Regions from separate parts of the Homo sapiens genome. Here region 2 is linked to region 1. The links come from fine-mapping of genetic effects on gene expression. A gene starts in region 1. The other region holds a variant in brackets. All regions are shown on one strand. Distances are from middle to middle. Region 1 holds the start of ABI3BP (ABI family member 3 binding protein). Region 2 overlaps ABI3BP (ABI family member 3 binding protein).

Region 1 (4,404 bases):
GGTTAGAACATGGATTTTGAATGAGAAGCTAGGTATCAAGTCCTGGCTCCACCATTAACATGGGAAAGTTACTGAATCTGCCCTGCTTTGGGGTATCTTCATTTGTAAAATAAATGGTTATGTTAGGTCAGTGGTTTCCAAATATTGGCCTGTGATCAATTTTTCATTAGTCTGTGGGAAAATGAGAAAAATAACAATGGACTTATTTATGAAATTAAATTTATTTATTGTATAAATCTGTTAAAATTGTTTACTTTTATGAACACTAGACATTCTCCCCTGTTCCCTTTGAGCATCCTCACATAGCAAAATTCAAGTATGCTCTCTATAACAGGACCCTGATGTTAAAATATTTGTGTATTTTTGTTGGTCCATAAATCCAAAGGTCTGGGAATCACTAGACTAAGTGATCATGAATATCTTTTCTAGCTCCAGAATTCTAACCACTTCTTAAGTCACAAATAGTATTTAACCAACTCTAAAGTAGAAGGAAGAACAAAAGTAAAAACTTTTACTCTTTTTTCTTCTTTTTTAACTCAACATTTCCCCAAATGTGTCCTGTGACAGACAAACCCCTGTTAAGATATTATAGATCTTCTATGGAAAAGAGGATTCTTAGTCAAATGAGTGTGAGAAACAAAAAGTTGTACAGGTTTCTTTATTGAGAATGTGCAAACTGCTAACACTTATTGTGATTCCCCCCTTAAAGACTCCACAAGTTATTGACAGGAATCAGCTGCCCTTCCACCCTCACCCCAAACTCTACCCATTGTAGGACAAACAGTGCACCTATGCCTGGAGCACAGTTTGAAAAAGATGACTTCAGCTAAAAGGTCCTCAATAGCTTTCCAATAAAGAAAAAACATAATATTAAAAACAAGACTTGCCATTTCTTTTATCATTATTATAATTTGATGTTTTTTTCCAAATTACCAAAACTACAAATATTTTTTAAATAAACAACAAAAGTTTTGTGGCCATTTTCGACAACTATGTTTTTTTTTCTTTCCCATTATAAATAAAGAAAAATTGTGTCAAGAGATTTGTGTCTAGTGATTGCAACACGATAATTAAAGCACTGGGATTGTCCAGAAGTTTGCAGTAACAAAGTTGCACCTATATCATCCCTATGCAATGAATAAAAAGTAAAATAAAAGTCTTCTGTAGGTATTAAGACTGAGAAAACCCCCAGACTCTTCTCAAATGATATGTTACTGTTAAATATTCCATTAGTAGGTACAATTAACTCTGAATGCTTGTGGCTCATAATTGATTTATTTAAATCACAGTTTTATTGTGATCAAGGAGCAAAACTCTTGGTAGAAAAAGATCTAAGAGTGCTTGTTTTTTATTTTTCTTTAATTATTTGATCAGAGTTGAGAAAGTTTACTTAGTCTTTTTTATTGCTGTTCACATTATCGTGTGAAATATCAACTAGCCAACCGCTTCAGCCTTCACATGCTGGATTCAAGTTTCACTTTACCCACCGAGGAAAGAACAGTTTTCACTTGGGACAAGATGATCCTGGGGCAGACTACCCAGAGAGAGGACCTAGGGATGATCTTTTGGATATTCTGACACTAGCAACCTTTCTTTCTGACTTTAGGCACACCAGGTTCTTGACAAGCCTGCAGCTCTGCATTACTTCTGATGTTTTCCATCATGACTGTATGGTAAATTCCAGCCTGTTTTTCACAATCCTGCTGACTACAGCAGTCTGCAACCATAAAAAGCCTTCACAGACCTAGAGTTGGCTTAGAGAAGTGCCTCTGCAGAGAAACAAAAGTACATGCAACATTTATGTTCAGAGACAGGAGAGAGGCAACAGCCTCTTGTTTTGGTTTCTGATGGGCTCAAAGGGTTGTTTTTAGGGTCAAAATTTAGAAATTTTAATTTTCTTCTGATAACATTTGTAAACAAAATACCAACACTAAAATGAGAGCAATTTAGCCAAGAAAGGGGGGAGTGTCCTGTCCAACAGCTCAAGCCCTCTTCCAAACTCCACTGGAGGGACGTGTCTGCAAATCAGCACATGACCGTACTTTGGTCTGACCTGCCTAGACTCCCTCAGCTTCCTGGTCAACAGGTATGTTTGAGGTTCACACCAAAGATTCAAGGTTTCAGAACCAGCTTCTTTTGAATCTTAAGCTAGTACTGATTCAGTCTCTGGGGAGGAGGATAAAAACACCAAACAACTCTTTCTAACAGACTATAATATCCATTTACACAATATGATTCAATACACAAGCACTATAGTTAGAAAGTATACAGTTCAAGCTCTGATGAACAGCTGCTCAATGTAATAAGTTTGTTTTCATTTTTGCAATAAAGAGCTGTAATTGAAAAGTAAATAACAGGAGGGGAAAGTAAAAGTTTAAGAGACCCCTTCACACATTTGAACTTTGAATCTCTGCAGAATAACTCTATTCCCCCCGTATGGTAAAGCAGATCATATTTAAAATCAACATTTAAAAACATCTATATCTTAATATTATTTTTAAAACATAAAACATCAGGCTACTTGCCTTTTGGCAATTTCTGTGCATTTCCCAGGGCTAGTGTAATACTTCCACAGAGAAGTAGACACCCCAAACTGGAGAGCATGTTGCATTTGCCACCTCGCATGGGGAATGATGCTGGTGGGTGCCTCGCAACCCTGGAGCTGCATTTAAGTGGACTGTCTCCCAGTGACAGAGGCGGGCGGCTGCACTTAGCTGTGCCGTGGGCTTACTCACAGGGGGTGGAGACAAGATGACATCACACCCTTTCCCACACACACCAAAAAAAAAAAAAAAAAAGCACAACAGCAAAAACATATCATCACATTTCTTTCTTTCTGCTAAGTTGTAACTGTGTCTCTTCCTTCTGTGATATAAAAATTCAAATTATGGCAGATCTGTATTTGTGAAAGAAGAAGTATTTAGGCAGTTTTGAAACATTTGATAAACTATTTTAAAGAATCCAGAAACAATGTACTAAAAGCTATCAAAATGTTAAAAATATAAAATAAAACCTTATTAAGAAGGAAACTTTTTAATTATCCAGTAAACCAACCCAATTCTTTTAAATGGGAGTAAACTCATAAAGATATATTTTGAGCCATTCTGTAGTTCCTGTATTATGAGAAACATTTAAGAGTAAGTCTTTGGCTACAAAGCTATACATTACGTTATAATATATATGTGTATACACATATATTCAACAGATGTAGATGTAGAGACGTAGAGAGAGCACTATTACTATGTGAGCCTCAACTGTGGACTGAGTTCTGTAATCGAGTCTTTACCTACTTTACTGTATTTTAATCTTCCCAGTGCCTCTGCAGGAGATATGGCATTATCCCCATTTTGCCATTAAGAAAAGCTGAGGAAAAAAGGTTAAGTGTCCTGACAATGCTAGTATATTCTACTGCTTAATAACGGATGCCACTTACTAATGAATTGTCCTTGAGCAAACTTCATCTCTATATTATCAATATTGATGACATTTAAATGCTTGCTCCGTGTTAGGCACTGATCGAATCAGTTTACACATGTTAAGACATTTATTCCTCAAAACGGTCTATGAGGCAGGCATTGTCATCATCCCCATTTTACAGATAGATAAACTGGGCACAGAGAGGTCAAGTGAAAGTCCAAGGTCACAGTGTTGGCATTTTAAGCAGCCCATTTAACTATAGTGCTTCCAGTCTTAATTACTACATTTTAGATTCTAAAATAAAGATGACAGTATCAATTTCTTACATTTGCTAGCAGTTTTTCGAAAGTAGTTGCCATAGAGCCTGACACACAGGAAACATTTACTAAATGGCAGTCACTGGAAACAATAATAATGAAAATGATAAGCCCCCAGTTAAGTAGAACTATAATTCTAACCTGGGCATATTTACCTCTGAAGTCCACATGTGTATCCTTTCCCCCTACATCACTTTGGTCAAAATATATAGACGCATGGGTGGAATGGCTGGGTTAATAAAGCACTTTAAACCTTGTTGGTATATTTATACTGACTCTTTGAAAATCGCTTACCTCATTGGGGTGCTGTAGCTGAACCAAAAACAGTAAGAGAAAAATTAAATAACACTGGTCAAATGAAATTCTAGTTAGAAAACTTATCAAAAAGAAAAAAGAAGAAAAAATGGAAGAGACAGCCCCGTCTTCCAAATAAAGTGTGAGAAGGCACCTTGTTAAAGTCATTTAGAGTTGGCTGGGTCTAAGCTCTCACCATAGGAATGCTCTGGCAGTGACTACAGGAGGCACTGGCTTATTTAACAGGTCTTTTTCATCTCTGATTTTTTACTTGAATAAGCAGTTCCCTCAATCGGGGTTAGGACATTTATCCAGCTGGCACTGCTGGTTCTGCTCCTATATGTCATTGCCATCACATTAAGCCAGTGAGACCACT
Region 2 (4,404 bases), 150 kb before region 1:
TGCTTTTATAAAGCCATTTGGGATAAAAATTAAAATTTGGCCTAAGATTTAAACAGATAAATTTTTCACTTAGCATTTAAAATATCCACAAATCAACAATATATGCAGAAGGCTTTAAATTCACTAATTATGTCAGGACAGGCAACTTTTAAAAAATGAGATACAGTTTATAAACTATACCTATAGGAATTAACTTTTTTTTCTGAAGAACAGAGCACTCACACACACACACAAAGGGACATTAATGTATTAATTCATTAATGTGAGTCTGTCAACACAGATACCAGCAGACAGGAAAAGAAGAAACAAAGGTCACCCACTCAATACTCTATTACCTAATGTTGTTGAAGGTTTGGTTCCTGGTGTTTCAGGTCCTAAGACAATGTGAAAAAATCACCAAGAAAGAATCAAGATCAAAGGAAAAATGACATGTATTTAAAACATGGAATATGCTTAATTTTTAATTACTAGATTGAGCAAATATAAATGGTGAAGCTTTTATCCACATGCAAAGTTTCTTTTCTACTTCAATAGATTCCTGTGTTTTCGACAAAGCGAACAAAAAAATGTAGCCAGTCAGTTAAGTTTGGAAAGAGAAATGGAACAAAAAGGCATGATTCTCACTTGGAACATGTGACTGTAATAAAGTAACCAGCAGTTCATGTTATGAAGGAAAATATGGGTAATTGGCTAAGATGGCATTAGAACACTTTTTTTTTTTTTTTTTTTTTTTTTTTTTTTTTGCTCTTTTGAAGAAAAAGAAGCTATAAAGATTGGGGTTGGTTTTTCTATTTCTCTCTTTGAGTGGATTTCCTAGTCCGTGGCACTTTTCAAGAAAATCTGCAAAAGTTAGAGTTTTGAAAGTAAGAAAAACACCTCCAAAAGAGAAAACATAAATATATCCTATGAAAGTCAGGGTCCTCCCTGGCAATAAACAGGTTAGAACAAGCTCAGGGCATATTCCTCAAATGTAATTGAAGGAGAATAAAGAATCTATCAAATTAAAATTAGTATTGCTTTCATGGGTGTCTCAGAACCACTGCTAAGTCAAGCACAGGCTGAGAGTATATCTTCGGGCAAAAATGGCTGGAAAAAGATCTGAAGGAAAATTAAGAAATATTAGGCTGGGCACAGTGGTTCACACCTGTAATCCCAGCACTTTGAGAGGCCGAGGTGGGTGGATCACCTGAGATCAGGAGTTTGAGACCAGCCTGGCCAGCGTGGTGAAACCCTGTCTCTACTAAAAATATAAAATATTAGCCAGGGATGGTGGCTCAGGCCTGTAATCCCAGCCACTTGGGAGGCTGAGGCAGGAGAATTGCTTGAACCTGGGAGGCAGAAGTTGCAGTGAGCTGAGATCACGCCACTGCACTCCAGCCTGGGCAAAAAAACGAGAGTGAAACTTCATCTGGAGAAGAAAAAAAAAAAAAAACAAAACCCAAAGCTGAACAAAGTTGAACATGGAGAGTGTTAAAGATACTTTGTTTTCACTCATTAAAAAAAGCTTTATTACCTATTGTTGACTGTGATGGCAGTAGAGTCTGAGGTTCTGGGGCTGTAATAAAAGCAAGTAATATCAAAAGCAATGCTGAAGAGCACCATCTGAGATAGAAGTGACATGTTCTTGACTATAAACGGAGTTCTCTCCTGGGTGAATGATTAGGTTCTACTGGCTTCTGCCAGTGAAGTTCAACCTTCCACATCCTCTCTACAAACCACAAGAATTGAGAATTCTCATTTTTGTTGTTGATCTTTAGCTGTTACCGTCACTTCCCAATATTCTGGTTTGCCTCTGGTGCTGAGGAAATACTAACTTAGAGGGAGTTCTGGGTAGCCTCTCTGAGGTTGTTCAGAGTGTCCTGTCACCTG[A/C]TATTTGTTTCTTGCAGGACAGCCAGGTTCATCCAAGGAAATGGAACAGGCAACAGACTCACCACCTGGTACTGTGTCTGTGCTGTTAGTTTGCAATCTCCAGCTTGGCTGGACCTGACGTTCTCTCACAAAAAAGATAAGAATTAAACTTATTGTTCAAAAGCGACCACAACTGTTCATATGATGCCTCCTGTATTCACTAGTATCTATCGCTGGTAAACAAATTGGTTCACATATGAAACTTAACCCATTTGGACTGGTAAACCAATGAGTCCAAAAGCAGTCTCAGATTTCATAAGATGCTAAATTAAATAACAGTATCTAAATATTCTGATAAACTTTCCAATGTTTATTCAAACTAGCAATAAGTAAATTAAACTTCATGTTGAATTTAGCTTGGTTACAATATTTGGGCTTAAAAAAAGATTACCCAATAGGTTTCTCATTATTCTATCAACAAAAAGTATTGTTTAAGGAGAAAATTAAAAAGGAATTGTTTATTTTTGAAATGGAAAGAAAAAGTTAAGATTCTTTGACTTTTCTTAAAGAAAGAAACTAATCAATGTGGCTTTCATAGACCATCTTAATAGAACTGAAGTCATTCTTCTACTTATACATTTCTAATATTAGACTTATCAGGAATGATCTCTGATATTACTTGACAAGGGAGTGTGGCAGGTTTTGAGAATACGTAGCGACTAAAAAAGAACTATAACAAGTTTCTATGTAGCAACTAACAACAACTACTTCAATGGAAAAATATAATAACGCAGGTACAGAATTTTTATTTCTTCTAAAAGCAATGCATAACAGCATAAGGTGCTATTTAAAGGCATTATCATCCATTAACATATCTGTGATCAAAAAATTTTTGTGTTGAGGCTAAAGAGTACAAATTAGGTGCAAAAGAAGCAGGTTAAAGTTGTTTTTAAAAGCCCCGAATTCTGATTTCTCAAGAACTTGTGCAGAAATAGATTGTAACAGATGAACGGCAAAAGCAGTAGTGATGTGTCAGACTGAAGTTCATATAACAAAGTAAAAATTCTGAGTGTGTGTGTGTGTGTGTGTGAGTGAGTCTGTATGACAGAAGAGAGAAGGGAGGAGGGAGAGTGTGTGTATGTGTGAGAGAAAGGAAGGGAGGGAAAGAAAGAGAGGGAGGGAGAGGATGTGTGTGTGTGTGTGTGTGTGTGAGAGAGAGAGAGAGAGAGAGAGAGGGAAGGGGAGAAGAAAGAGTGTCTGGGAGATGGAGAGAGAGAGGAGAGTATGCATGTGAGAGAGAGTGTGTGAGAAAGAGAAAGGGAATTGTATGTGTAAGGGAGTGCATGTATAGGTCTAAGTACCTCAGATGCTATAGGACAAGAAGAAAATAAACATCAATACATGAAATACAATAAATATCAAATAAGCATTCATACCTGAAGATAGCAAACAAAAAATTATTTTGAAACTTCAAGATTGTAATTCATGTTTTTGATTCTACAAAGTTGCCTTCCACAAGTGAAAAATAAAATTTGCTACTCATTGCATCTTTTAGACTTCACAAAAATTAAAGAACGTTGTTTTTGAAATTATAAGGAAAAATCTGCATTTTTGAGTTCCTGGCTGAGTTTGAGACCAAATAGGGATAGAACTCCATCAATTAAGCTTCAAAGTCAATTGCACATAAAAACAGTAAGGTCTATGTTTAGTAAAAATAAATATATCTTCTGACACGCCTTCTATTTGACAATCATAAGGTATTATAGGTAAAGGTATAAAATGTTCCATAACAAAGCTGAGTGGTCTGTAAATGACTAAGCCACTCATCTCAGCACAAAACAAAGACAAATTTGACTCACATGTGTGTAGGAATGAGAACAATTTACAATTCTATCCACGTTGGAAGACGGTCAAGTGAAACAAACACCTGTAATTGGGGGCACCCCCTTATTTTCAGTCCATTAGAAGCTTAAAGATTAAACCATGAAGGAAACAATTCCCACTGGACGAGGTAGACAAGTTAAGACATGGTAGGTGGCTGTGGTTTTTGAGAAATGCGCTGAATTGTACTTATAAAACAAGCCCAAATCAATGTGGATTTTTACTCGTTGACTTAACCACCAAGCAAAGCCAAAGGAAAAGGAGCCTGTAAAGGAAAGTGAAACAGAAAAATAGAAGAGTGTGCGGAGAGGGCTGGGAAAGGCCTCAAAAAGCTTTGGGTGGTGTATTTGCTCTTCCAAACCTTGGCTAGAAAGAGACATCTTTAGGAGAGCTATAAAGGTGGTCTGCCCTAAATAAAAATAAATAAAATTTAAGAAGCTAAAATCAAAGCAATGGTTTGCGGAGATCCAGTCATCATCCTGTGTTGCTATGGACCATTCAAGGTCCATTTGAGGGCACAGGCCTAGGTGTGGATTCTGAAGTCATTACATTGCTGTTAGAGGAAAAGGGGTGGATTTTCTTTGATGATTAGAAGGTTTAGAAATCAAAGGAATGTAAACACATTAGCCTCCAAGTAATTCTTCCCATGTTAAAAGGAAATGTCAAATTAAGAAG

Evidence for each region. PIP is the estimated chance that this variant, and not a neighbour inherited with it, causes the effect. A credible set is the group of variants that fine-mapping cannot tell apart.
Region 2: its variant is the best candidate, but not a certain one, in a credible set for the expression of ABI3BP in pituitary (GTEx, PIP 0.78).

Annotation. Positions count from the first base shown.
Region 1 is chr3:100,990,781-100,995,184 of GRCh38, forward strand. It overlaps ABI3BP (ABI family member 3 binding protein), which reads right to left and starts at 2,641. Exons shown (of 68, transcript NM_001375547.2): 1 at 2,526-2,641. The coding sequence starts at 2,604.
Region 2 is chr3:100,840,485-100,844,888 of GRCh38, forward strand. It overlaps ABI3BP (ABI family member 3 binding protein), which reads right to left. Exons shown (of 68, transcript NM_001375547.2): 21 at 1,514-1,555; 22 at 336-374. Among named protein-coding and RNA genes, the nearest start is that of TFG, 130 kb to the left of the region's middle. The variant A/C (reference allele first, on the strand shown) is at 1,870.